7 linked regions of the Homo sapiens genome follow. The protein of the gene in region 7 interacts with the protein of the main gene of each other region in a biochemical or structural test. Each region holds a gene or a part of one and is shown on either strand. Other genes may lie near its edges. The genes, in order: DPF2, STAT2, CBX5, CDK19, CDX2, NR4A2 and SMARCA4.

What was found.
Region 1: the proteins of SMARCA4 (region 7) and DPF2 form a complex in vitro, tested with the Homo sapiens proteins (one study listed by BioGRID).
Region 2: the proteins of SMARCA4 (region 7) and STAT2 form a complex in vitro, tested with the Homo sapiens proteins (one study listed by BioGRID).
Region 3: the proteins of SMARCA4 (region 7) and CBX5 form a complex in vitro, tested with the Homo sapiens proteins (2 studies listed by BioGRID).
Region 4: the proteins of SMARCA4 (region 7) and CDK19 form a complex in vitro, tested with the Homo sapiens proteins (one study listed by BioGRID).
Region 5: the proteins of SMARCA4 (region 7) and CDX2 form a complex in vitro, tested with the Homo sapiens proteins (one study listed by BioGRID).
Region 6: the proteins of SMARCA4 (region 7) and NR4A2 form a complex in vitro, tested with the Homo sapiens proteins (one study listed by BioGRID).

What each region holds. Positions count from the first base shown.
Region 1 is NC_000011.10:65,343,852-65,347,351, reverse strand, and holds part of DPF2 (zinc finger protein ubi-d4), read right to left. Parts: intron 3,362-3,500; coding exon 3,283-3,361; intron 2,773-3,282; coding exon of another isoform or gene 2,731-2,772; intron 1,687-2,730; coding exon 1,549-1,686; intron 1,423-1,548; coding exon 1,294-1,422; intron 1,106-1,293; coding exon 993-1,105; intron 1-992. UniProt on the Homo sapiens protein: Plays an active role in transcriptional regulation by binding modified histones H3 and H4. Is a negative regulator of myeloid differentiation of hematopoietic progenitor cells. Might also have a role in the development and maturation of lymphoid cells.
Region 2 is NC_000012.12:56,350,108-56,353,607, forward strand, and holds part of STAT2 (signal transducer and activator of transcription 2), read right to left. Parts: intron 1,344-3,500; coding exon 1,185-1,343; intron 1,084-1,184; coding exon 991-1,083; intron 782-990; coding exon 722-781; intron 326-721; coding exon 305-325; intron 84-304; coding exon 1-83. UniProt on the Homo sapiens protein: Signal transducer and activator of transcription that mediates signaling by type I interferons (IFN-alpha and IFN-beta).
Region 3 is NC_000012.12:54,273,623-54,277,122, forward strand, and holds part of CBX5 (chromobox protein homolog 5), read right to left. Parts: intron 1-3,500. UniProt on the Homo sapiens protein: Component of heterochromatin that recognizes and binds histone H3 tails methylated at 'Lys-9' (H3K9me), leading to epigenetic repression. In contrast, it is excluded from chromatin when 'Tyr-41' of histone H3 is phosphorylated (H3Y41ph).
Region 4 is NC_000006.12:110,805,470-110,808,969, reverse strand, and holds part of CDK19 (cyclin-dependent kinase 19), read left to right. Parts: intron 1-3,500.
Region 5 is NC_000013.11:27,966,516-27,970,806, forward strand, and holds the start of CDX2 (homeobox protein CDX-2), read right to left. Parts: upstream 2,801-4,291; 5' UTR 2,492-2,800; coding exon 1,951-2,491; intron 1,779-1,950; exon of another isoform or gene 932-1,778; coding exon of another isoform or gene 742-931; intron 1-741.
Region 6 is NC_000002.12:156,326,830-156,329,721, forward strand, and holds part of NR4A2 (nuclear receptor subfamily 4 group A member 2), read right to left. Parts: coding exon 2,494-2,892; intron 1,705-2,493; coding exon 1,575-1,704; intron 1,186-1,574; coding exon 1,022-1,185; intron 92-1,021; coding exon 1-91. UniProt on the Homo sapiens protein: Transcriptional regulator which is important for the differentiation and maintenance of meso-diencephalic dopaminergic (mdDA) neurons during development.
Region 7 is NC_000019.10:11,030,530-11,034,029, reverse strand, and holds part of SMARCA4 (SWI/SNF-related matrix-associated actin-dependent regulator of chromatin subfamily A member 4), read right to left. Parts: intron 3,301-3,500; coding exon 3,137-3,300; intron 741-3,136; coding exon 513-740; intron 264-512; coding exon 165-263; intron 1-164. UniProt on the Homo sapiens protein: ATPase involved in transcriptional activation and repression of select genes by chromatin remodeling (alteration of DNA-nucleosome topology).

The sequences.
Region 1 (3,500 bases), on a different chromosome or scaffold from region 7:
TCAAAATAAATAAATAAATACATAAAGAATAAATAAATAGCTGGGTGCAGTGGCTCACGCCTATAATCCCAGCACTTTGGGAGGCTGAGGCAGGCGGATCACCGGAGGTCAGGAGTTCGATACCAGCCTGGCAAACATGGAGAAACCCCATCTCTACTAAAAATACAAAATTAGCCGGGTGTGGTGGCACGTGTCTGTAATCCCAGCTACTTGGGAGGCTGAGGCAGGAGAATCACTTGAACCCAGGAGGCAGAGGTTGCAGTGAGCTGAGATTGTGCCACTGTACTCCAGCCTGGGCGACAGAGCAAGACTCCATCTCAAAAAAAAAAAGTAAATAAATAAATACATAAATAACCATGTCACTTCCCGAGTAAAACCCTTCAACAGTGTCCTGTTGTACCTAGAATAAAACCCGAGGCCCCAGAGATCTGGCAGTGCTTGCCTCTCTCATCTCATTGCCCACCATACTCTCCCATGCCCTGTCATCTGGCTTGTCCAACATAAGGCCTTGGCGCTGGCTGCTCCTTTCCTGGGATTCCTCTACCTCCAAATCTTGACTGGCTCCTTGGTATCACCAAAATTTCAACACCAGCATCACCCTCCCAGAAGAGCCATACCTGACCATCAAAATAAATCACTTATGCAATTATTCTCTGCCACAGTACTGATTTCGTTTTTTTCATGGCACATTATACAAATCTCATTTACATCCTTGCTTATTGTTGTTCCTGTAAGAATGTAAATCTCATGAGGCAGGGACCTTGTTTGTCTTTAGCATCTTTAGTGACTAGAACAGTGTCTGACATAAAATCAGCACTCAATATATATCTGGCAACAAATCAGAGTTCTGACTGAGATGCTAGGGAGGGGCGTGTGGCATGTGGGAGGGATCCTGCTCCCTTTTTAAAAGAAAGCTCACTTTAGAGGGAACTGTGCAAACAGCAGTAAAAGCCCAGAAGGAGCCATGCTGAGGAGGGGGCGGGGATACACACGTCATTCTCGGAGGTGCCGCAGATATTGCAACATTTGCACTCGATGCACTGCCAGCGGTATGTCTTCACTGCCGCCATCATCACGGGGGTAAATTGGAGGCAAGATGGATGCCCTGTAGTGGGGGAAGTGAGTGAGACAGACAGTCGGAAATGCGGGGGGAAGAGAGGAGCTCCTGCCTGTGGCTACATCTTCTCTTGGTTAGGAAAAGCGAGGTGGGCTGGTTATGACAGCCCTAGAGGCCAGCAAGCCAAGAGCCCCTTGGGGACTGGGCAAAGCAGCAGCCTTCACGGGAAGCAGTACCTGAGCGGCCACAGTCAGAACAGGACACCAGCTCCTCGGGTTGTCCCGTCTTCTTGTTAATCTTTGAGTCCCCCAGGCAGAAGTCACAGTAGTTGTTGGGCAAGGCCAATCCATCAGGACCCTTTTTGGCTACAGAGAGAAAGAGTTTTGATGACACCCATGGGGGTCCCTGAGCCACTCAACACCCATGCAAGGAGTGGTTTTCATAACCAGGCCAACTTCTGCTTGCCCACCACTTCTGACACCTCAGCTTACATTTCTGCTCCTCAGACCTCTGGGAAACAGGAGTGGGTGGTTGAGAGTCTTCCTTGTCCTCGCCCTCCTCCTCAGCCAAGTGGGAGTGGGCATAGTGGTAACTGAGGCCTGGTCGGTTCTTGTAACGTTTTCCACAAACTGAGTGGGAAGAAGATTGCAGAGAAAGGTGTTAGGATACAAGAGTGCCATGTCCCCATCCCTGCAAGCTGTGGGGGCTCCACCTGAGGCAGAGGGCAACCATCCCTTCCCCTAGCAGCTCCACTCTGGGACAGGCCTTGAGTGACGGCCACTTCCCCTCAGCCAGGAGCATCAGGCCGTGGGGCTCTCTAGCTTCTGGGGCTCTTTTCCCTCCTGAACTCCAACCCCATGGCCACCACTGCTCTTCCATGTTGACTTTTGGGGGGCTTAGCCCTTGCCCCATCACCAGTTAGTTGCTCTGGGATATACTAACAGTCTGGGACGCTCCAGGTCAGGAAAGGGAAGGATATTCCTATATCTTTGGGGTGGCAGGAAGGGGGAAAAGTGGATAAGACTCCAAACTTTTTTACCCCTCAGTAAATGTGGGAGGCTCATGCTACCCCACACACCATGGAGCCCATCTCCCCTGAATGTGGGTAAACAAGCAGGGGATGGGTTTCTTGGGGATAGCCTATCAATGAAGCCAGTTGGGCAGTTGGTCCCCAAAGAAATTCAAGCACACTCCCATGTAATTGCCCTGTCCAGGCCTGCCAATCAGCAAGGAAAGCAGATCCCCATGAGGCATTTTGTCATCTTGAGAAGTAATACCAAGAAGGGCAAGGGGGCCAGCAGGAAAGGAGTGGGGAGAGAGGATGGCAGGAGGAGGTGGTGGGGCAGTGGGGAACATGAGCTGACCACCAGCTGCCTGGTCTGGGGAGGGAGCGGAAGGGTCTGATTGTAATGGGCTCCTGATAATGCTTCTGAAGCCACCCCATGCACTGGGCCGAGCAGCTCTAGGAGCAGGTTTGTGGGAAACAAGCAGTGGTAAAGGCAGCCTTCAGGACTTTGAGGAGTAGAGCACAGCAGAAATTCCACTGCTCCTACCCCCATGCCATTCCAGAGATTTTAAAGCTAGCATCCCAGGAAATGAGAAAGGCAGGAGGAACAAGGGAAGAGGGAAAAAGGGAAAGGAAAACCACAAGTCTGAAAAGTTGAGAGAGCTACCTCTCTGGGGCGCTTTCGAGGTATGCTTTTGTTTGAAACTATCTGAAAGACAGAAAGAAAAGTCATGAGAAGAAGGCCTTGATACACTTGAGACAGGAGCAGCAGCAGCAGGAAAGCAGAGCAAACGAGAGAGAAACCCCAGCGGCGATGGTGCTCCCAGGGTGGAGGGACAGAAGTGGGGCAAGGCAGACAGAAAGAAAAAGAGAACAGACGTTGAAAAACTCAGTGTCAGACCCCTGGGGCCCTGGCTTAACTGAGGCCAGGAGACCTGCAGGCCATCTGTTGAGAGGCCAACCCTGCCTGCTGTGGCCCCCACAAGCAACCCTACCCCAGAGGATGGCAGAAATCTTTCCCAGAGCATGCAGGTCCCACCCGTCATATAGCAGGGACCCAGGCCTCCCAGGGGTCTCAGACGGAAGCAGTCAGCAGGCAGGACAAGAGCCCAGGTTTGTTTTAATACTCTGGGCAAAAACACAACCCTCCCTCCTCTCATATCCAGAGCAGGAGCTGGGTCCAAGGCAAGGTCTACCCACCCACTTGTGAGGCACTCACTGTCACAGGCATAGGGCTTATCCCGGTCCTCCAGGATGGAAGCATCCAGCTTCTTACGGGCACTGCCCACACCCTTACCCTGCCAAGAAGAGCAAAGAGACACCCTTATTTTGGTAGCTGGGCCTGAGGAGTTAGACTCTTTTGGAAGTGGCCGCTAATCTCACTTGAAATAAAATAAGGAATTCCCTAGGCCACCCTGTCCCAAGATGCAGGCAGCA
Region 2 (3,500 bases), on a different chromosome or scaffold from region 7:
AGTCCCAAATCAAACCCTGACTCTGCCCCTTCTCGGGGGTCAAAGTTTTCTGGTTTGAAGTCAGAATGTTGAACTTCCGGAAGCTGTTCCAGGAGGAAGATACATGGAGACAAGGAATGGAATTATTCTAAAAACTCAGCAGAAAAAAAAAAACAGAAGTTCCACTTCATTTCAGATCTCGCCATCTCCCTTTGTCCATATCCCAAATCCCCCTCTTCCTTGTTTGTGCCACCAGGGCTGCCGAATGTGGTTCTGCAGGTCATACACTGTACAGATGTTTGCAGTGTCCTTGTCAAGCACCTACCCTTGTAATTGAGGAGGATTCCTGAAAAGAAATAAATTTAAAAAAATCATTGGGCAAAAGAGTATGGAAGTTAGGAGTTTCGTCTTTGGGATCAGACAGACCTCGGTTCAAACCCGACTTGAGCTCACTAGCTATGTGGCCTTGAGAAGAGATGTAATCAGTCTCTCTAAGCCTGTATCTTTGTTTGTACAGTGCACTGGTAATAGTTTATTCATGGGGTTGGTGTGACAATTAAATGAGTAGCTGACATGCTGCATGTCACAAAGTAAGTGTTCAACAAAAGAAATGAATTATAATTTCTGTGAGGTAGGATTGGAAGGAGGAAGGAGATAGCCCTAGGGCCCTGTTGTGAAGAGTGAGTATCTCCTCCACCCCAGCAGCCCGTGTCCTGGCCACCCTTCACCTGCTCCAATTTACCTGTCAATGGAGACTTCCACAGTCAGTGACTCATTGCCTTCCTGGAGTCTCACCAGCAGCCTGGGGGAAGGAAGGGGGATAGGGGAAAGTGGTCAACCTCAACCTTCCGGATAGACTAGATGTTTGAAAAAGAGAAGAGGGATTATAAGAGGTAGGGAGATTGCAGGGAAAGAGAAGAAAAAGCCAAGAGTGGGAAGAGCTGTAAAGCCAGAAAATACACAGTGGCAGGGTTGGAAAAAGGAAGTGGGAATGAGTTCTGGAATGCCAACCTTGTTCGGACGGTGAACTTGCTGCCAGTCTTGAGGATGAGGGGTCGATGGGGAGTTTGGGGCATGCAGGGCTGGGTTTCTACCACAAAGGCTCTGAGGAGAGAGAGGTGTGGAGAGAATATATAGCTCAGTATCTGTAAGAATGGCTTCCCTTGTTCCTTCTTTCCCCCAGGGTTCCTGCCTGGCCTCTAGACCTGTGGAGCAGACGCTGTAGCAACTCTGTGACCTGGGCGTTGCGTAGGTCCACCCCTTTGGTCAGAGGGTCATCCTGATAGCTAACCAGGCAACTCAGTCCCTTCAGCTCCTTCAGCAGCTGCCTCAGGTGAAACAACAGCTTTGCTCCAGCTGTGAACCTGGGTGATAAAATTCAGGAAGAAGGAATCCATGAGTTTCCTGGATTCCCCCATCCAGGTTCCAAGATCTCTCTGTAAATATGTGAAGAGTCAGAAACTGACTGGGGGGAAGAAAAAAAAAGAATCCAGGAAGCATATAAAGGATTATTCAACATGATTCATAATCCAAGAAATGAAAATCAAAGCTATTTTCACATATAAAACTGCTAATAGATTTAACATAACAGTTTTCATATGCTATGTACAACTTATATTAAGCCCTTTCCACATATTAATGCATTTAATCCTCAAAACAACCCTCTGAGGCAGGTACTATTATTTTCCCCACATTACAGATGATAAAACTGAGGCACAGAAAGGTTAAGTGACTTGCTTAAGGTCATACAACTAGTAAGGGATGAAGCTTGTATGTGATCCCAGGCAGTCTCATTGTACAACTCACACTTTGTTTTTTTTTTTTAGACAGTCTCACTCTCTTGTCATCCAGGCTGGAGTGCAATGGTGTGATCTTGGCTCACTGCAACCTCCACCTCCTGGATTCAAGAGATTCTCCTGCCTTGGCCTCCCGAGTAGCTGGGATTACAGGTATGTGCCACCACGCCCGGCTAACTTATATATATATATTTTTAGTAGAGACGGGGTTTTGCCATGTTGGCCAAGCTGGTCTTGAACTCCTGACCTCAGGTGATCCGCCCACCTTGGCCTCCCAAAGTGCTGGGATTACAGGTGTGAGCCACTGCACCCAGCCCCAACTCACATTTTTAACTACTGTACTTTACTGTCTCTATAATTAAAAATAATAATAATCAGCAATGTGGTGACAGGAAAACAACCATACACTACACATGAGAAAATAGATTCGATTGGGACAACTATTCTGGGAAACATTTGTAACTATCTTTTTTTTTTTTTTTTTTTTTTGGTGGGGGTGGGGGTGGGGGTGGTTTCTGGCAAAAACCTGAAAGCCTGCTAGACAAATCCTAAAAGAGCTGTAACACTTGGAACTATCTTTTAAAAAGCCTCGCCAGCTGACATGGTGGCTCACACCTGTAATCTCAGCACTTTGGGAAGCAAAGGTGGGCAGATCACTTAAGGCCAGGCACTCCAGCCTGGGAGACAGAGAGAGACCCTGTCTCAATCAATCAATCAATCAATCAATCAATGCATGCATGCATGCATGCTGGTCCTGTACCATAAGTACTATATGCCTGTTTTTCAATCTACCTGAGCAATTGTGGTATTTTTTTAATCTACTTTTTTTTTTTTTAAGAGGTGAGGGTCTTGCTATATTGCTCAGGCTGACATCAAACTCCTGGACTCAAGCACTCTTTCTGCCTCAGCCTCCTCAGTAGCTGGGTATTATGGTATGTGTACATATATACTTTTAGAGACAGGGTCTCGTTCTGTTGTCCAGGCTGGACTACAGTGGTATAATCATGGCTCACTGCAGCCTCCAACACCTGGGCTCAAGCAATCCTCCCACCTCAGCCTCCTGAGTAGCTAGGGACTACAGGCGTGTGCCACCATGCCTAATCTTTTTTTTTTTTTTTTGAGACGGAGTCTCGCTCTGTCACCCAGGCTGGAGTACAGTGGCATGATCACAGCTCACTGCAACCTCTGCCTCCCGAGTTCAAGTGATTTTCCTGCCTTAGCCTCCTGAGTAGCTGGGAATACAGGCATGCGCCACCACACCTGGCAAATTTTTGTATTTTTAGTAGAGATGGGGTTTCACCACATTGGCCAGGCTGGTCTTGAACTCCTGACCTCAAGTGATCCACCCACCTTGGCCTCCCACAGTGCTGGCCACATGTGTGAGCCACTGTGTCCGGACATGCCTAATTAAAAAACAAATTTTTTTTTTTTGTAGAGATGGGGTCTTGTTATGTTTCCCGGGCTGGTCTCAAACCCCAAGACTGAAGTGATCCTCCTGCCTCAGCCTTCCAAAGTACTAGGATAACAGGCATGAGACGCCATGCCTGGCCTGGTATATTTCTAAAAGACTAAATTATAATAAATTTTTAAATGAGAAAATATTGAAAACAGTAGGTATTTTTCAAGTATGTTGGAGGACACACTAGTGATTTTTCTACAACACAATATAATTACCATAAAATATAGCGTTTCCTGGAAAAAGGTAACAAGAAATTGAAAATAACC
Region 3 (3,500 bases), on a different chromosome or scaffold from region 7:
AGTTCTGATGCAAGTACTCAAAAGAGAAGACAATGTGAAAACAGAACAGAGAGATATGCCAAGGAATGCTGACCATAATCAGAAGCTAAAAGAGGCAAAGAACAGTCTCTCTCCTAGAGCCTCCAGAGGGGCCTCAATATCTTGATTGCAGACTTCTGGGCTCCAAAATTTTGAGAAGAATAAATTCCTCTTGTTTTAAACCACCAAGTCTGTGGTAATTTGTTATAGCAGCCACAGGAAACTAATACATAGGGGGAATAAAATTTTAAACATCATAAAGTGGACATATATAAAACATTACTGATCCAAAAAGAATTGTGTTTCAGATAACCCAAAGAATGTCTAAAACCTTTAATCCCTCATTTCAAAGGGTAAATTGAGGCTACTGCAGGATACAATTTGCCCCAAAGAAATTGGCAGATCTGAGAAGAGAAACTCAGAAAGATCTAATATTTACATAGCTGCTAACAAGAACAGTGTAGGTTTTTCTGCAAACATGCTAGTTGGTAGAGCTCCTGGACAGACTAAACATAGGCAGCAGTTGTCACAGTGGGTGTTCTTCCAGCACAAGTGTAAAGCTGTCATCAGAAATGAATATGTGGCTTCGAGTGGCTTACAGAAATCCAACAAATCTGCATCTTGGACTCTGGACAAGCGAACTCTTCTCAGGATGACCTGGACTCCTTCCTATTAGTACAATGATCAGTTAAAATCATTCTCTATAAGCAAGGAAGAAAAATAAAAGTTTATATCAGGAGAAAAAGATGATTGCCCAGAGTCCGAGTTCACGAATAGCAGATATGTAAACAGCCATACTAAGTCAAGTGGTATCTCATGTTGTAATTTATTACTTTTAAAATCAATATCCATAACACAGCTTTAGGCCCAGTTTCATGTAAGATGAATGGAAATAAAAATAATCTAAGTAAAAGGACAAAATAAAGACTAGAAATGCTTTACCAGGACAGTTATTAATTAAATGGGCTATACCAATAAGATATGGAAATCATGCTATGTGGTTAAAGACCTCAATAGAGCCGGGCACAGTGGCTCATGCCTGTAATTCTAACACTTTGGGAGGCCGAGGCGGTTGGATCATGAGGTCAGTAGATTGAGACCATCCTGGCTAACACGGTGAAATCCTGTCTCTACTAAAAATACAAAAAAATTAGCCAGGCATGGTGGCACGTGCCTGTAGTCCCAGCTACTCGGGAGGCTGAGGCAGGAGGATCGCTTGAATCCGGGAGGCAGAGGTTGCAGTGAGCCGAGATCACGCCACTGCACTCTAGCCTGGGTGACAGAGCGCGACTCTGTCTCAAAAACAAACAAATCTCAATAGAAACAAAAAGCGACTTAGTCTTCCTCAAAAATCTTTGTACCCTGATACCAAACCTTTCTCTTTTCTAGAGTATTGTTAAGGGCTCTGAGAATCTCCAGAATTTCCCTAGCCATATACAAATCCAGCCGCTTCAAATGTAGGCTCACTCTTTCTTTCCCCAACTATCATCCTGCTCACCTACTACCCAAATTGAAGCTTTCCACTTACTAGTTTTCAGACAGAATATATTCCCCTTTAGTAAACACCCCTTTTAGATTTGGTTGCAATAGTAGGTATGTCTCTAAGTTTTTTTTTCTTTTTTGAGACAGTCTCGCTCTGTCACCCAGGCTGGAGTACAGTGGTGCAATCTCGGCTCACTGTAACCTCCGCCTCCCAGGCTCAGCAATTCTCCTGCCTCAGCCTCCAGAGTAGCTGGGGCTACAGGCGTGTGCCACCACGCCCGGCTAATTTTTTGTATTTTTAGCGGAGATGGGGTTTCACCGTGTTAGCCAGGATGGTCTCAATCTCCTGAACTCATGATCTGCCCGCCTCGGCCTCCCAAAGTGCTGGGATTACAGGCATAAGCCACTGCGCCCAGGCAGTATGTCTCTAAGTTCTAAGCACAAGCGTTATAACTTCTGTAATTAGAGGCCCAACACGTATCACATTGGAAGTTAGGATTTCTAACTCTGTGATAGTACCAGAATTTCAATGAAAAATTACCCACTAAAATTTCACCACCAGAGAGAAAAGTTCATCATATCTATTAACTACCACATTGGAGGCTGGGCACAGTGGCTCACACCTGTAATCCCAGCACTTTGGGAGGCCAAGGCAGGCAGATCACCTAAGGTCAGGAGTTTGAGGCCAGCCTAACCAACATGGAGAAACCCCGTCTCTACTAAAAATTAGCCGGACGTATGCCTGTAATCCCAGCTACTCAGGAGGCTGGAGCAGGAGAATTGCTTGAACCTGGGAGGCGGAGGTTGAGGTGAGTCAAGATCGTGCCACCGCACTCCAGACTGGGCAACAAGAGCGAGACTCCATTCCAAAAAAAAAAAAAAAAAAAACCTATCACATTGGGAGACATTTTGCAATATTTTTATTGTTTTCCCTCTTTAAGCATTGTGAGACTTCACAATAAAACAAGCAGTTTTCACTTGCACACGACAGTAAACTAGAAAGTCTCGGTTTGGCTCCTATAATCTTTCAAAGTAAAACACATGAGTAAAAACACCAAATAATGGGTCACTGCTTAATCTGTTTACATAGATACTCCTTGATGGGGTTATGTCCTGATAAACCCATCATAGGTTGAAAATATGAAAAATTGAAAATTCATTTCCTACACCTAATCTACTGAACATCATAGCTTAGCCTAGCCTACCTTAAATGTGTTCAGAATACTTACATTAGCCTACTGTTGGACAAAATCACCTAACACAAAGCCTGTTTTATAATAAAGTGTTGAATATCTCATGTAATTGGTTGATTACTGTACCGAAAGTGAAAAACAGAATGGTTATGTGGATACTTGAAATATGGTTTCTACTGAATGCAAATTGCTTTCCACACCGTTGTAAAGGTGAAAAATCTTAAGTCGAAATATCACAAGCAAGGGACCATCTGTACAAGTGGCTGGGGCTGGAGATGGAAGGAACTGACTCAGAAAGCAATCAAAGTTGGCATGATTTGGTGACCTATTCTTCAGATCAGCAGTCTTTTTCCCCCAAAACCCTGGGTCTATAAACAGCTGTGAAATCAGTTCAATGGAAATTGACTGCTTTCTTAAGACAATGAAATAGTATACTGCAGACAAAAGAATATCAGAGTACTCTGCACGTTTAGTGAAATGTTTCAATGTGTGTACAGGATTAGTGTAAAATATATTTCTTATTGCGGTCAAAAAAGTTTTGAGACGTGGATCCAAAAGAATCCCAGGAAAAGAAAGAGGCTAGCTAGAATCAAGTGAAAAAGAAGGATGTGAGGCAAAGTCTACCTTCTTCAAAAACATATTTGCCATTATTTTAGGAAGCCAAACAAGGACAAGATGCAATCAATCGTATGTGTAAGTTTAAGCAGCAAAAAGTGGTAAAAACTTTTTTTTTCTGAGACAAGGTCTCACTCTGTCGCCCAGACTGGGGTGCAGTGGCATCATCTCGGCTCACTGCAAACTCTGCCT
Region 4 (3,500 bases), on a different chromosome or scaffold from region 7:
CTCCCAAAGTGCCGGGATTACAAGTGTGAGCCACCACGCCTGGCCCCATTTCTTTGAACAGATATTAGATATTGCTAAGGAAAATAGGCATATTTTTGAGAAATAAATATTTTCTCTTAGGCCAGCTCTTTTAGAATTGCTAGACTAGTAATCTGTCTTCTGTGCTTTTACTAGCTATTTTATAGAGATGCTTAGAAAATACCAGTATTTAAATACATTTTAGGACAAATTTTGGTTTTATGGGTTTATGGTAAAAAATTAAGTATCTTTAACACTTAGTAAATGAAGTAGACATCTGTTTATGTTTAACTGGTTTGTCATTTTTGTAATGCAAGCCTTCAAAAACTTTTTGAGGCCTAAGGGAAATTAATGTGTTCTTTTTCAATGAAATTTGATAATCTAGAGCAGTGATCAGCAAACTTTTTCTGGCAGATACTAAATATTTTAGGCCTTTTGGGCTTTACTGTCTCTGGTGCAATTACTCAACTCTATTGTAGTGCCAAAGCATCGACAGATAATACGTAAACCAGTATGGATAAGGATGGCTGTGTTCCAGTAGACCTTTATTTATACAAATAAGCAGTTGGCTGAATTTAGTCTGCAGGCTATAGTTTGTTGACTCCTGGTGTAGAGCAGTGATGTCCAATAGAACTTTCTGCAGTGATCTGAAAATGTTTAGCATCTGTGCTGTCCAATATGCTAGCCACAAGCCACACGCCACACATAGGTATCGATTACTGGAATGTAGTTAGTGTGATTAGAAACTAATTAGTAGCTATCACATTGGACTGTGTAGGTTTAGAGTCTTTGGATGAGTGGCTTAGCAACAAATAATTCTCTGATCCATCAAGTGACCTTTCAATAAAAATGTTTAAATCAGGGTGTGGATAAATAGGAAAACTGTTATGTCTTTTTTCAAGTTACAGGAGAAATATTAAGGCTGAAATAGCTTGATAAAGCAAACCAATACTTGAAGAACTATCAATTTATGAATGGAATCAAGGATATTTAACTACTTTTTCAAAAAAGTATTTTATGGCCGGATGAGGTGGGAGGATTGCTTGAGCCCAGGAGTTTGAGGCTATAGTGAGCTATGATGATGCCATTGCACTTCAGCATGGGCAGCAGAACGAGACTCTCTTAAAAAAAAAAAAAGGTATTATAAAAAAAAGTTTGTAAATAGTATATGTGCGTAAAAATATACAATGTGGCTGGGCGCGGTGGCTTATGCCTATAATCCCAGCTCTTTGGGGAGGCCGAGGTGGGCAGATCACTTGAGGCAAGGAGATCAAGGCCAGCCTTGCCAACAGCGAAAACTCCGTCTCTACTAAAAATACAAAAAATTAGCCGGGCGTGGTAGTACACACCTGTAATCCCAGCTACTCGGGAGGCTAAGGCACAATAATTGCTTGAACCTGGGAGGTGGAAGCTGCAGTGAGCTAATATTGCACCACTGCACTCCAGCCTGGGTGACAGAGTGAGACTCTGTTTCAATAAAACAAAAATAACAAAAAACCACCAGTGTAACGTAAGTCATCCCTTTCCCAGCCATTCTTTCCCTTTTTTAGGGGCAGTCATTCTTGGTTGTCCTTTAAGAGGATTTTCTTTTGGGGTATGTGCATGTGTGTTAACTTAAAGATGTCATTAAATATGACATGCTAGTGTGCTGCACACTTTTCTATTTTTAGATCATGGCTCACTGCAGCTTTGGCTGCCTGGGCTCAAGCAAGTCTGTCTCTTGGGCTCAAGCGATTGTTTCACCTCAGCCTCCTGAGTAACTGGGACTACAGATGTGGGCCATGCCCAGCTTTTTTTTTTTTTTTTAAATTATTTGTAGAGATGAGGTCTTGCTATGTCTCTCAGTCTGGTCTTGAACTCCTGGCCTCAAGTAATCCTCCTACCTTGACCTCCCAAAGTGCTGGGGTTACAGGCATAAGCCATCATGCTTGGCCCTATTTTTATTTTTATTTTTATTTATTTAATTTATTTATTGAGACGGAGTCTTTCTCTGTCACCCAGGCTGGAGTGCAGTGGGAAGATCTTGGCTCACTGCAACCACCACCTCCCAGGTTCAAGCAATTTTCCTGCCTCAGCCTCCTGAGTAGCGGGGACCACAGGCATATACCACTATACCTGGCTAATTTTTTGTATTTTTAGTAGAGACAGTGTTCACCATGTTGGCCAGGCTGGTCTCGAACTCCTGACCTCAAGTGATCCATCTGCCTCAGCCTCCCAAAGTGCTGGGATTACAGGCGTGAGCCACAGTGCTTGGCCCATATTTTAAATCTTAAACATTGCTTAAACATTATGACATATCTATATACAGAGATGCCTTGTTTCTCTTAATAGTTTTGTTGTATCTCATTGTATTGACTTACATCATTGGCTGTCTCCAGTCTTGCTAGTACTAACACTGAAGTGAATATCCTAGTAAGCACAGCATTTTGTACCTATTAATGTGTCTGTAAGTTAAAGTCCTAGAAGCTGTTTACCTTTGGAAGTAATGGCTTGGAATGGTTTACTAATATGGTGATGTATAAGATAGAAATATCTGAAGACTGGAGATGGGGGGGTTGGCTAAGAATAAGGAAGTGAAATGTTAAGACAATAATAATTTTTTTTTTTTTTTGAGATGGAGTTTCGCTCTTCTTGCCCAGGCTGTTGTGTGATGGCACGATCTTGGCTCACCGCAACCTCTGCCTCCCGGGTTTAAGCGATTCTCCTGCCTCAGCCTCCCAAGTAGCTGGGATTACAGGAATGCGCCACCATGCCTAGCTAATTTTGTATTTTTTAGTAGAAACGGGGTTTCATCATGTTGGCCGGGCTGGTCTCAAACTCTTGACCTCAGGTGATCTGCCCACCTCGGCCTCCCAAAGTGCTGGGATTACAAGCGTCAGCCACTGCACCCAGCTGACAGTGATAATTAACACATAAAAATGAGCTATAAATCATTTGTTAAAGGAAGTACAAGTTACTTACTTTTTTTTTTTTTTTTTGAGAAGTGTTATCCAGGCTGGGGTGCAGTGGCACGATCTTGGCTCACTGTACCTCTGCCTCCTGGGCTTAAGCTACTTTCTCATGGCTACTGTTTTAGGAGCATGGAAAAGGCATGTCTCTGAGTTTTACATAGGAAGAGTAGATCCATGGAAAGGTTTTTAATGCAATCTATGTCAGTGTTGATGAATTAAGTATTTTTATTTTTTAAAGTATATAAAATATAGTGTCCTACATTTTTGAACTTAATATGCTAGACAAATAAGTTCATATGTGGTGTTATAAATTGTGTACAGTTGACTGTTGAACAGCAGGAGTTTGAACTGTGTGGGTCCACTTACACGCAGATTTGTGAAACCTGCGTATATGAGGGCCAACTTTTTGTATAGGTGGGTTCTCCAGGGCCAACTGCAGGACCTGAGTATATGTGGGTTTTGGTATATGCAGGGGTCCCAGAACCAACCCTTTAGGTATACTGAGGGACATCTATTTGTTTTGAAAAATTA
Region 5 (4,291 bases), on a different chromosome or scaffold from region 7:
CCGGAGCTGAGGCGCAGGGCAGTTCCCTCAGCCGAACACCCCGGGAGGGAGACTCGCCTGGAAGTGTCTCGGAGCGACCCTTGCTCGGGTGCTGCCCCTTCAGTGTCCCGGACGTGCCGGGCAACGCGATGACCAGACCCTGAGCGCTCTTCGACCCATGCCCCAAGGGCCTTGGAGGCGCCCCACACCCCCTGGGAACCTAGGAGCGGGGCTATGGAGGGGAGGGATGAGAGGGACTTGTCAGAATTCATTATTGACTGCGAAAGTCACCACCCTCTTTCCGGGCCCTAAAAGAGACAATGGCAGGGCTGGGAAGGTGTATATCAAAGCAAGCCAGGCCGCGTCCCCCCCTCCACCCCCACACCTTGACAGATGACGCTCCGCAGAGGAGCCCGGCTCCGGCCCGCGGGCTGCGGCCACCCCACATTAACATCACAAGGGCACCCGGCGCCGACTGCGGCCTTGCCACCTCGGCGCAGGACTTCACAGCGGCCTCTCATCTGCTGACCCCGCGGCCTGGGCTCTGGCGGCTTCCCTCCCGCCCCCTTCCCGGCCCTCACCCCGCGGCCGCTCTCCCGGGACACGCAAAGGTCTTCCTTAGGGCGTGCGCCACCCCCGCCAACCGCGCCCCAGACAGGGGCTGTAGAAAGTGGGTCTTTGGGAGCCAGGATCTGGGAGCCCCTGCTAGGAGAAAGGCGCCTCCTCTAGGAGAAGGGACCAAGCCAAAGCTCTGAGGCTCACCCGAGGCTGATCTGTGGCCTTCTCCCCGGTCGGCGGCATTCCCACCAGGACTCTCCCTAGCATGTGCACAGTGACGCAGAAACCGATGCCCAGAGACAGCCCCCAAAGGGCGCTTTGATTTATACAGTTGTAATTGGCTATAAACTTCTGCAAAGTGCCCATAACCAGCGTGCCTGCCCAATTGGGGCATCAAGGAGCGAAGCAAGAAAAGCGGAAGCGCTGAGGGCTGGGGAAAGACTTTAAAAGGGGCACTCAACTAGGACTCTCCCCACCGCACTTCCTTGCCACCTCTAGGCACACTCGAACACCAGAAGGGGCAGACCCAGAGTCAATGAGCCCCACAGTCCGGCAAACCTAGGATCTTTTTCAGTTGCACACACACACTCACAGACATCCCTGACACCCTTGAAAGGAAGCTTTGGGAGAAATGACCCCTACCTGGAGCGGCGGCTTAATTCCCACCAGGGTTTCCTCCCCGTCTCCCTGCTCTCTCCGCAGACGCCTGCCCCTAGGCTTCTTGCCCCTAGCCTTCCAGCTTTTGCTTGAAATGACCCCTTCACAGGTCAGAGGTTCAGAGACGGGGCGCGCCCCCGTCGCCTTAGCAGCTGGGGCTAGCACCTTCTTCCCAGCGACAGCAGCTCTCCCTGGTCTGCCTGCTCGCTGTACCTTGAATTGGCCCGAGTGGCCAAACCCGGTCCCACACACAGCCTAGCCATCCTCCGACCCCCCCAGGTCACTTCTCTTCTTAGATGGCTCAGATGGGGAAAGAGAGAGCGGAGATAAATGGCCTAGACCTAGCCCAAGAAGGTTCGAGCCTCCCTCTCTCCTCGGCGGCCAGGAGCCACGCAAGGAATGCATGCCGCAGCAAGTGCCGGAGGACGCGATTCTGCCGGCGTCCAGCAGTGCTCACGCCGACATTCCCCGGAGCTTCCCGAAGGTGTCCCGGGGTTGCGAATGAGGAGCTCTTGGAAAGAGGACGCCTGAACACGGTGTTGAGACTCAGAATATTCACTCCCAGGCTCAGTAGGTCAGAGAAGCCCCGACGGGCCAGAGGCCCCCGAATTTGTCTCCGGGCCGTGCCCCTCCTGGCGCCGAGCTCCCAGACAGCCCGGGACGCCCCTGTGCGCACTGGACGCGCGACGCGCAGCAGCCACTGGCTCGACCCGCGCCTTCCCAAGCACCCTCCGAAGGGGCGCAGCCTCTGCTTACCTTGGCTGCCGAGGGACTGCTGCGCCGGCTTCCGCATCCACTCGCACAGGTTCCGCCGCTGGCCGCCGGGAGACAGCTGCTCGGCGGCAGCGGTGGCGGCGGGCCCAGGAGGGCCGGGGTTGAGCGTTTGCAGCAGCCCAGAAGCGCAGGAAGGCGCGGCGGCCGGGTGGTGCGGGTGGTGATGCGGGTGGTGGTGCGGATGGTAGTCTGCGGGGCTGCTGTAGCCCATGGCTGCGGCCGGGGAGCCACCGTTGAGGCCGTGAGCCACGGCGTTGGCGGCGGCCGCGGCGCCTCCGGGCGCGTAGCCATTCCAGTCCTCCCGGAGTGGGGCGCCATACGCTGCCGGCCAGGATGGCCCCGGGGACTGCGCGCTGTCCAAGTTCGCTGCCGCTGCAGCTGCGGCCGCCACGTGGTAACCGCCGTAGTCCGGGTACTGCGGGGGGCTGACGAAGTTCTGCGGCGCCAGGTTGAGGCCGCCAGAGTGGCGCACGGAGCTAGGGTACATGCTCACGTCCTTGTCCAGGAGGTAGCTCACGTACATGGTGGCGAGGGTCCGGGAGCAGACCTCACCATGCTGCCTGGGGACCGACGCTGGAGGCTGCCGGGGGGCACGAAGGGAAAGGGGCGAGGGGACTCGAGGAGCGGCGGGTGGCTGCGCCCCAGCCCGCGGTGCTCCGCTGGCTCCTCGCGGCTCTTCTGCCTCCGAGGCGGTCCCTCCCTCTGGCCTGCCTCCTCCCTCCCTCCCTTTCTTCCTTCTTTCCTCCCACCTCCTTCCCACTAGGCTGCAGAGGCGGGGAAGACCCGCCACAGGCTGGCGTGCGGAGCCCCAGGCCGGCGGCCTTCCGTGATTAACGAGTGTTTACAAGACTCTATTAGTAATGACACAGACACCAATGGTTGGAGACGTCGAGGCGCAGCGCGCACTCTACGCACAACCCCTCGAAACATAATTTGCATTTTAAAAGATAAAGGGGAGGGAGGCTCGTGAGAGGGCAGCGACCTGACACAGCTAAATATTCAAACCTTTATTGTTAAGAGCTTCCTCCTTCCAACCTGGTGCACTTTAACCTCCAATCACAGGTTCAAAGAATGAAATCAAGAGACTTACAAAAGAGAGGGGAAGAGAAAAGGCTATCTTGGTAGGAATCTGAGCTTGGAGACAGGAGCAGTGGTTGTTTATGCATTTGCAGGGAAGAGGGCGGTCAAGAAACTCCTTCTGTCCCAAAGAGAAAAGAAAAGAGAACCATTGCTTTGATGAGAACGTTTCTGACCAACCTGGTAGGTGACAAGCAGAGAGCCCTAAGAGATGGGCCATTCCTTCCCGCCCTGTGCTCCTGGCCCGGACGACTGCAGCCCCAAACAACTGTCACCTCCAGTTATTTTCTTGCCCAAGGAAATTACTCGCCCTCCGCACAAGACAAATTATGATCCTAGATTCAGGCTGCATCTCTGACTTCATCTTACATTTGAAATTTGAGTTAAATTCAAGCGATTTATTGTTAAACGTTTACATTCAAGAATCAGAAGTTTTAAACTACAGAAGTAATGGGCATGTGGTAGAAGTTAGGCTAGTGGTTATTGGCGTGCATAACTGGAGGCGAGCTAGGGGATCGTTGGTAAAGCAGTTTCTTAGGCTGCTGGTTACACAGAATGTCAGTTTGTGAAAATTCATTGAGCTACACTTGTATGTTTATTATACTTAAATATAAGGAAAAGAGAATTTCTGCTAATGCTTACCTAGGTATTTATGTGTCTTACATCATACCTGTATCTTTAAAACTCTCTGTCCTTTACAAAGGGAAACGTTCTCCGAAGAAATTTATTTCTCATTTCCAGGAGATGATAAGGCAACTCAGGGCCATTATTAACGACTGCTAATGAAAAGCTCTGAGTTGAGAAAGGATCTCTCTTGGTTTGGGAAGCGCTGCGGCCAAGGGGCCTAGGGCTGGAAGTGGCCGTCTTGGGGACCGAAGCCGCGCAGCCCGGGATCGGGAGCTGCCCCGACAGGAGCGCGGAGGCGGCGAGATTCGGCCCCCGCGCGCGCCCAGCTCGGTTTCAGCAACCGCGTGGAGTGGGCCTGCGGCCGCCGTTCACCTCCTAATACAAGCCTTTGACAGCGCTGCCAGATTCGGGAATGAGGATCACTGCGGCGAGGCCCGGCGGGCTGGGCAGCCTGACTCGGCGGCTTTGAGCGCTCTCAGAACCCGCGGGCGCTCGCGGCACTCCTGGAGACCTGCACTTGTCTGTTCTCATTGTCAAGCGTTTCGCTCGGATATTTGTCACCATCGCCTTCATCCTGTCATTTCTAGGGTGCTCTCCAGTGTCCTTTATCTCCCTTGAG
Region 6 (2,892 bases), on a different chromosome or scaffold from region 7:
TGATCTCCATGGAGCCAGTCAGGAGATCATAGAATTGCTGGATATGCTGGGTGTCATCTCCACTCATTTGATAGTCAGGGTTCGCCTGGAACTGGAATTTCATTTTAAAAAGCACTTAATGAGGTTCTCTAAAATATATAACCCGTGAAATTGCTAACCCCGTTTCTAATAGGGGAGCCAGGTTTTTATAACAATTAAACCTCTCTCTGACCAGTAAGGAAATTAGATGTTCCGGGGCAATTAATTCAATTAGGGATGGTGCTACGAGGTCGCTGCTTTAAATATGTAAATTGCCATTTCCATACAGACTAAATACAGTGCCATCCAGCCCTGGGAAACGTTCACTCTTATCTCCACAAAACAATTGACATGTTAGTATTCATGCTAGTCCCAGAGTGGGCCTCGAGCTGAGACGCCCTTTTGCAAATCTTAATAAAATTGCAGTCCCTACCAGGTTTGCTCAACATACTTCCTCCAATTAAAGCCCGCATATTTTTCACAGCTGGAGTAAAAAGGATCTGACCACTTGATCCCCCACCCCACTGGCATTCTTTACACCCTCTCCTTCCCTTCCCTGACCCCCAGACAGGCCCCCACATCCTTCCCCAGCACAGTGCCAGGAAGGATGAGGATTAAAGCATCTATCTCTATGGAGGACTGGGAATAAAGTAGATTGGGAAGGGGGAGAGTTTGCACAGCCCCTGGATTTCATGGTAGAGGCACTGGTGTATATGGAAGAGGAGGGGCGATGGGGTAGTGGGGTAGTGGGAATTCACACAGCTTCAAACCCTGTGGCGTGTCCCTCTCCTCCTTCCTCCATCCTGTCCTCATGTCTATGCCCCCAGCTACATGGATTGTCTGAAGATCTGAATCTTGAGGCCCTGGCCAGAGCTGCGAGGCATATACAGCCTTGCTTGCCTTCTTTACCCCCGTTGAATCTGAGAGTTAATGACGGATGTGGGGAGGGGTCCTGCCCATCTGTCGGTTTGTCCACATGATATCCCCCCCGCCAGCTTCTTACCCTGGAATAGTCCAGGCTGGTCATAGCCGGGTTGGAGTCGACATGGGCCCTGACGAGGGCACTGATCAGACTCACCGGGGGCGAAGGGGGAGAGGGCTCCTGTGGGCTCTTCGGTTTCGAGGGCAAACGACCTCTCCGGCCTTTTAAACTGTCTGTGCGAACCACTGCAAAGGAAGAGCCCTGTTAGCGCCGCTTTTCCGAGCCCAGGCCCAGCTGCTGCCTCGGTCCCTCCCCGGGGAAGGCCGCAGCCGCGGGGCACCAGGCTGAGCGGCTGAGGGCCCCAGTGCTTGTAAAGCCTTCACTGACTAGAAGCATTAAAAAATGCGGGGTTATTTTATGTCTTCCTCCAAATGGGTCGTATAGTTAAAGGAGAGAAGGGCCTGGCGGCTTTCTCTAGGGAAGGCCGGGCAAGCAGGCAGCTGCAGGGTCCTGGAGGCCATACTGAGGGGGAGTCGGAGATCCCCAGCACCGGGAAGTGGAACGTGATGCTGGAGTATGAGCAGTGGTTTCCTAAAGGCGCAAACTGGAGGGTCGGCAGCTCCCCTCAGCCTACCTTCTTTGACCATCCCAACAGCCAGGCACTTCTGAAATCGGCAGTACTGACAGCGATTCCGGCGACGCTTGTCCACTGGGCAGTTTTTATTTGCTAAACACACGTATTTTGCATTTTTTTGCACTGTGCGCTGCAAAAGGAGACAATATAGACCAACATTTTTTTTCTTCTTTTGAAAATCAGGCAACTCGGAGAAAATTTCTGTTATGTGACTGGGGTCTACGATTCCTCCCCACAAACAAACACATACACACAATTCCATTTTATTTTTTTCTCTTCCTTTTCTTTCTTTCTTTTCTTTTTTCCTCCCCCAGGGCATTTAACAGAAGAAAATTGATAGCGTTAACATTTGAGCTAACCTTGCCGCTCCTTGCTGTGTTTTATATGCCAAGAGAAGGAGAAGGAGACGCTCAGTAAATACAAATCCGTGGGCATTCATATTATTTACATTCCTTGGAGACCTTCTCTATTTAAAATGATAAGATTATTCAATCAGGATGGCGAAATAAAGAGATCACTTAATTTGACCATAGGGAATTCTGTTCCACTTGGTTAGCTCAGACACGGTTCTCTGTCCTAACCAATTTCATTCTGAACAGGGAAGACAGCTCCTAGCACATGCAAATGACCCTCTTCCAACTCCGGCTCCAGCAACTTCGGGCGGGGGCCAGCCGGGTCGGCTGAATGCGAGGGGGATGCGACCCTGGCCTCCCAGTCTTTCTGCTTCCCTTTCTCAGACACCCGGAAGTCCCCGCCGCAGCCCATGGTCTCCTGCAGGGCAGCTTCGGCGGACCCCGGAGAGCTGGGCAGTCCCGGGAGAGCTGGGGCTGGGCTACTGGCACCAAGGCAGAGGGCACACTCCGAGGTCCCGGGCACTAGGGGCTCCCTACCTGCCTACTCCGCTCCCGCCATTGCTCACCTTAAAGAAGCCTTTGCAGCCCTCACAGGTGCGCACGCCGTAGTGTTGGCAGGCCGCGTTGTCCCCACACACAGCGCACAGCCCCTCGTTGGAGGGGGAGCCCCGCGACGGCGGTGAGGGCACCTGCGTGTCGAGCAGCTGAGACGCGTGGCCGATCTGCAGGCCCGGGAAGCCCATGGACGCGGGCTTGCGAATGGGGTTGGGCACAGCGAAGGTCTGCCCGTCCACCACGTGGTGGCTGCCGGCGGGCTCCGGGTTCATGGGGACGTGCAGGGGCCCGTCGAAGCGCATCTGGCAACTAGACACCGGGGTGCCAGGGGGCGATTGCTTAAAGGAGAAGAGGGAGAGGCGGGAGACTGGCGTTTTCCTCTGCTCGATCATGTGCGTAGTGGCCACGTA
Region 7 (3,500 bases):
CTGGTGGTCCCGGCACGGCTGCGGTGGATGGGGACCCACACGGCAGCGAAAGGCACACACACGCACACGCACACGCACGCTCCGTGGGACCAGGGCCCTTGCTGGCCGTCTCAGCCGAGAAGCCGAGGATTGAATGGGCATGGAGACTGAACTACCCCTCTCACCTTTAGAGGTGGCTCCTCCAAGTCGGGGTTGACGCCCGCTGGCGGAGGGGCAGTGTGGGCGAAGCTGGCACTGCCGCTGCCCGTGCTGCAGTGTCTGCTCTGTGGATAAATAGAGGACTTCAGTCTCCAGGGCTGTCAATCCGGCGTCTTTCACCAGCAGTTTAGAAAAAAAAACCACTTCAAAGAAAAAGCAAGTACTCATCCTCTTTCCGTTCAGCCCACACTCCCTTTACTCCAAAGGGATGCAAAAAAAATAAGAGTGCAAAAAAGGTAAAAAAACAAAAATGAAAGCCGCTCACGCGTCCACCATTCACGCTGGGGAGGGGTCGGGGCCGGTGCTGGGCTCACCTCATCCTGCTCCTCGTGCTCCAGGATGGCCTGCAGGAAGGCGCGCCGCTCATGGCTGGAGGACTTCTGGTCGAACATGCCGGCCTGGATCACCTTCTGGTCCACGTTGAGCTTGTACTTGGCTGCAGCTAGGATCTTCTCCTCCACGCTGTTGACGGTGCAGAGGCGGAGCACACGCACCTCGTTCTGCTGCCCGATGCGGTGGGCTCGGTCCTGCGCTTGCAGGTCCTGGGGGAAGAGGTGCCAGTCAGTCCCAAAGGAGCCCAGGAGGTCATAAAAGGGAAGGTGGCCTCTGACACTAGCTGGAGAGGTGTGCTGTGCGTGCCACCCTCGGCCTGACAATTCTGCCCAGCCTGACCTGCCGCCGCATGAAAACAGAGCTGGTGGAGCCTGGGCCGCCATGTGTCCCTCGGGGGAAGGGGACTCTCATCACGTTCCTCCAGAAGTGCCACCTTCTACCTTATTGGGACCCCACAGATATTCGGGAAGAAAGCACCAACCCCCCAGGGGATTATATTCTCAAGCAGCTCCCGTGGCAGCGGCACAGCTCCCCACAGCGTGGACCTACACAGTCGAGCACCATTTACAACAGGGGGCCGAAGCTCGGCCGTGTTGTGGCAGTGCTTGGTTTGGCTGTGGGCCCTGCCACTCTCACAGTGCACACAGAACCGGAACCAGGTCTCACCTCTGTGAGCCTCAAAACTCCCTCAGCCTACATGGGGCCCAACCCGTGGCTACTGCATACCTCGAATGAGTGAATAAGCACCAGGAGTGTGGCCCAGTGACTGGTGCAGTTAGCTCCCAACAATGCAGGTGCCGTGGATGGGCTTTTTTTCTTTTTTTTTTTTTTTGAGACAAAGTCTCGCTCTGTCGCCCAGGCTGGAGTGCAGTGGTGCGATCTCAGCTCACTGCAACCTCTGCCTCCCGAAGTTCAAGCGATTTTTCTGCCTCAGCTTCCTGAGTAGCTGGGGCTACAGGCATGCACCACCATGCCTGGCTAATTTTTGTATTTTTAGTAGAGACAGGGTTTCGCCATGTTGGCCAGGCTGGTCTCGAACTCCTGACCTCAGTTGATCCACCCACCTCGGCCTCCCAAAATGTTGGGATTTCGGGTGTGAGCCACTGCGTCCAGCCTGGGTTGTTAGTTTTATCATCACCCCAGCACAGTACGAGGAGGCTAACACGAAATCCTGTCTCTGGGCCCAGGAGCTGCAGGACCAGGGTGAGTACCAGTGATGCTCTGAAACTTAAGACTGGCACCCATGGGGTGGCAGAGGCCACAGCTGGTGGGGACCAGGAGTGCCTTGTGTCTGCCGCTCAGCCCTCCTGCCCTGTCAGCACACTTCCTGGCAGGGCCAGCCCTCCCCAACGCGCCCCCAGCCCTGAGGTGCAGCTTCCGCCTGCTGCCGGCCTGCCAACGGGGACACACAACTCAACCACCTCCTAAGAAACTGGCTGGTCACCAGGGTCTGGGCAGAAGCTACACCCCAGCCTGATCGTAAAAGGGGCCACCAGTGACCACCACGGCATTCACCCATCAGACAAGCGACAATTTACACACTGAGAACGCTGCTGCCCTCACGCTGCAGGGAAGGGCAGGGTACATTCACACCCCAGCGTAGGAGTGAAACCACTTTGGCAGTAGCAACCAGAACACGAAGAGGACAATGTCTGGGGTGGAGCGACCCCATGTCTGAGGGCTGCGCAGACCTAGGGTGTTTGCACAAGCACTCTGAGAGAAAGAGGGACCCTGCTGGGTTGGTGACCAGGCTGATCAACAGAAAAGACGGATGCCTGCCAACCAGAGTTTGAGAGCAGACGTCCAGGGGTGGCCATCTGCCGGGACGCCTGGTGGCCGATTAGATGGCTGGGTAGCTTCCGATGTGCACTCGGCGGTTGACACCCACTGCTTGGTGGAAGAGGCACATGCTAGGCCACGCCGCATCTGTGTTAATCTCAGTACATACATGTGCGAAGGCAGATGGGCTGGCAGAGGCTCAGAAGAGAGCACGGTTGGAGAGGAAGGGAAAAGGGACTCCTGACTGTCACTGGTGTTTACATGTTAAAAACAATAAGAACTTATCAGTCTTATAATGAAACACAGAGAAAAGTTTAACTCATTTTCAAATTCTTGTAGCTATGTAACAGCATGACCTGGTATCCACCGATGCCGAGGCCCATGAGGGGTACATGGTTATGGAACAAGAGGAGGAAGTAAACGAAGTGGCATGGAGTTTACCCCCAATTGTGTCTGAACAAGCGCCAGTGTGTGTGCTCACAGGGCACACTGCAGGGGCCGCCCCACAGTGACGGCGCAGATTGATCAGGATACTTTCCACCTCCTCATGGGTGCCATTCCAAGATTTAAGAAAAACCAAACCGACGGATGGCTTATACACTGCTTTCCCAATCAGAGGGAAAGGCTGTTTGTATTTTGGGAAACAGGAGGACCCCGCCTCTTTTCTCCCTGATGACCTATGGAGATATGGGTGCAGCTCCTCCCGGCTCCTGGGGTCCAAGACAATGTGGAGGAGGCTGGAGGACCCTCAAGCCAGGGCCGTCTCCTCGAGGTTTTGCAGGCACCCCCTTCCTTCTCCTCGACCTGGGGCCCGGCCCGCTTTTACCTGGTGAGGATTCCAGTCGCTGTCAAAAATGATCACAGTGTCTGCCGACTGGAGGTTCAGGCCGAGCCCCCCAGCCCGGGTGCTGAGCAGGAAGATGAAGTACTCAGAGCCGGGCTCGTTGAAGGTTTTCAGCAGCATGCCCCGGTCCTCCGCCTTCGTGGTTCCTGACGGGCACAGAGGAGAACAGGGTCAGCGGGGTGACCTCAGGGGTAGAGTGGGGACACCAAGGAACACCTGCTTCTGAGAGCAGGAGCAGGATCAGCACCTGCCAGCATCCCCAGATCCCTGGCTCCGCACTCTCCACACGGGCCTGTGGGCCACTGGCGAATAACTGGATTTCCAGTGTTTCACCACAAAACGTCTC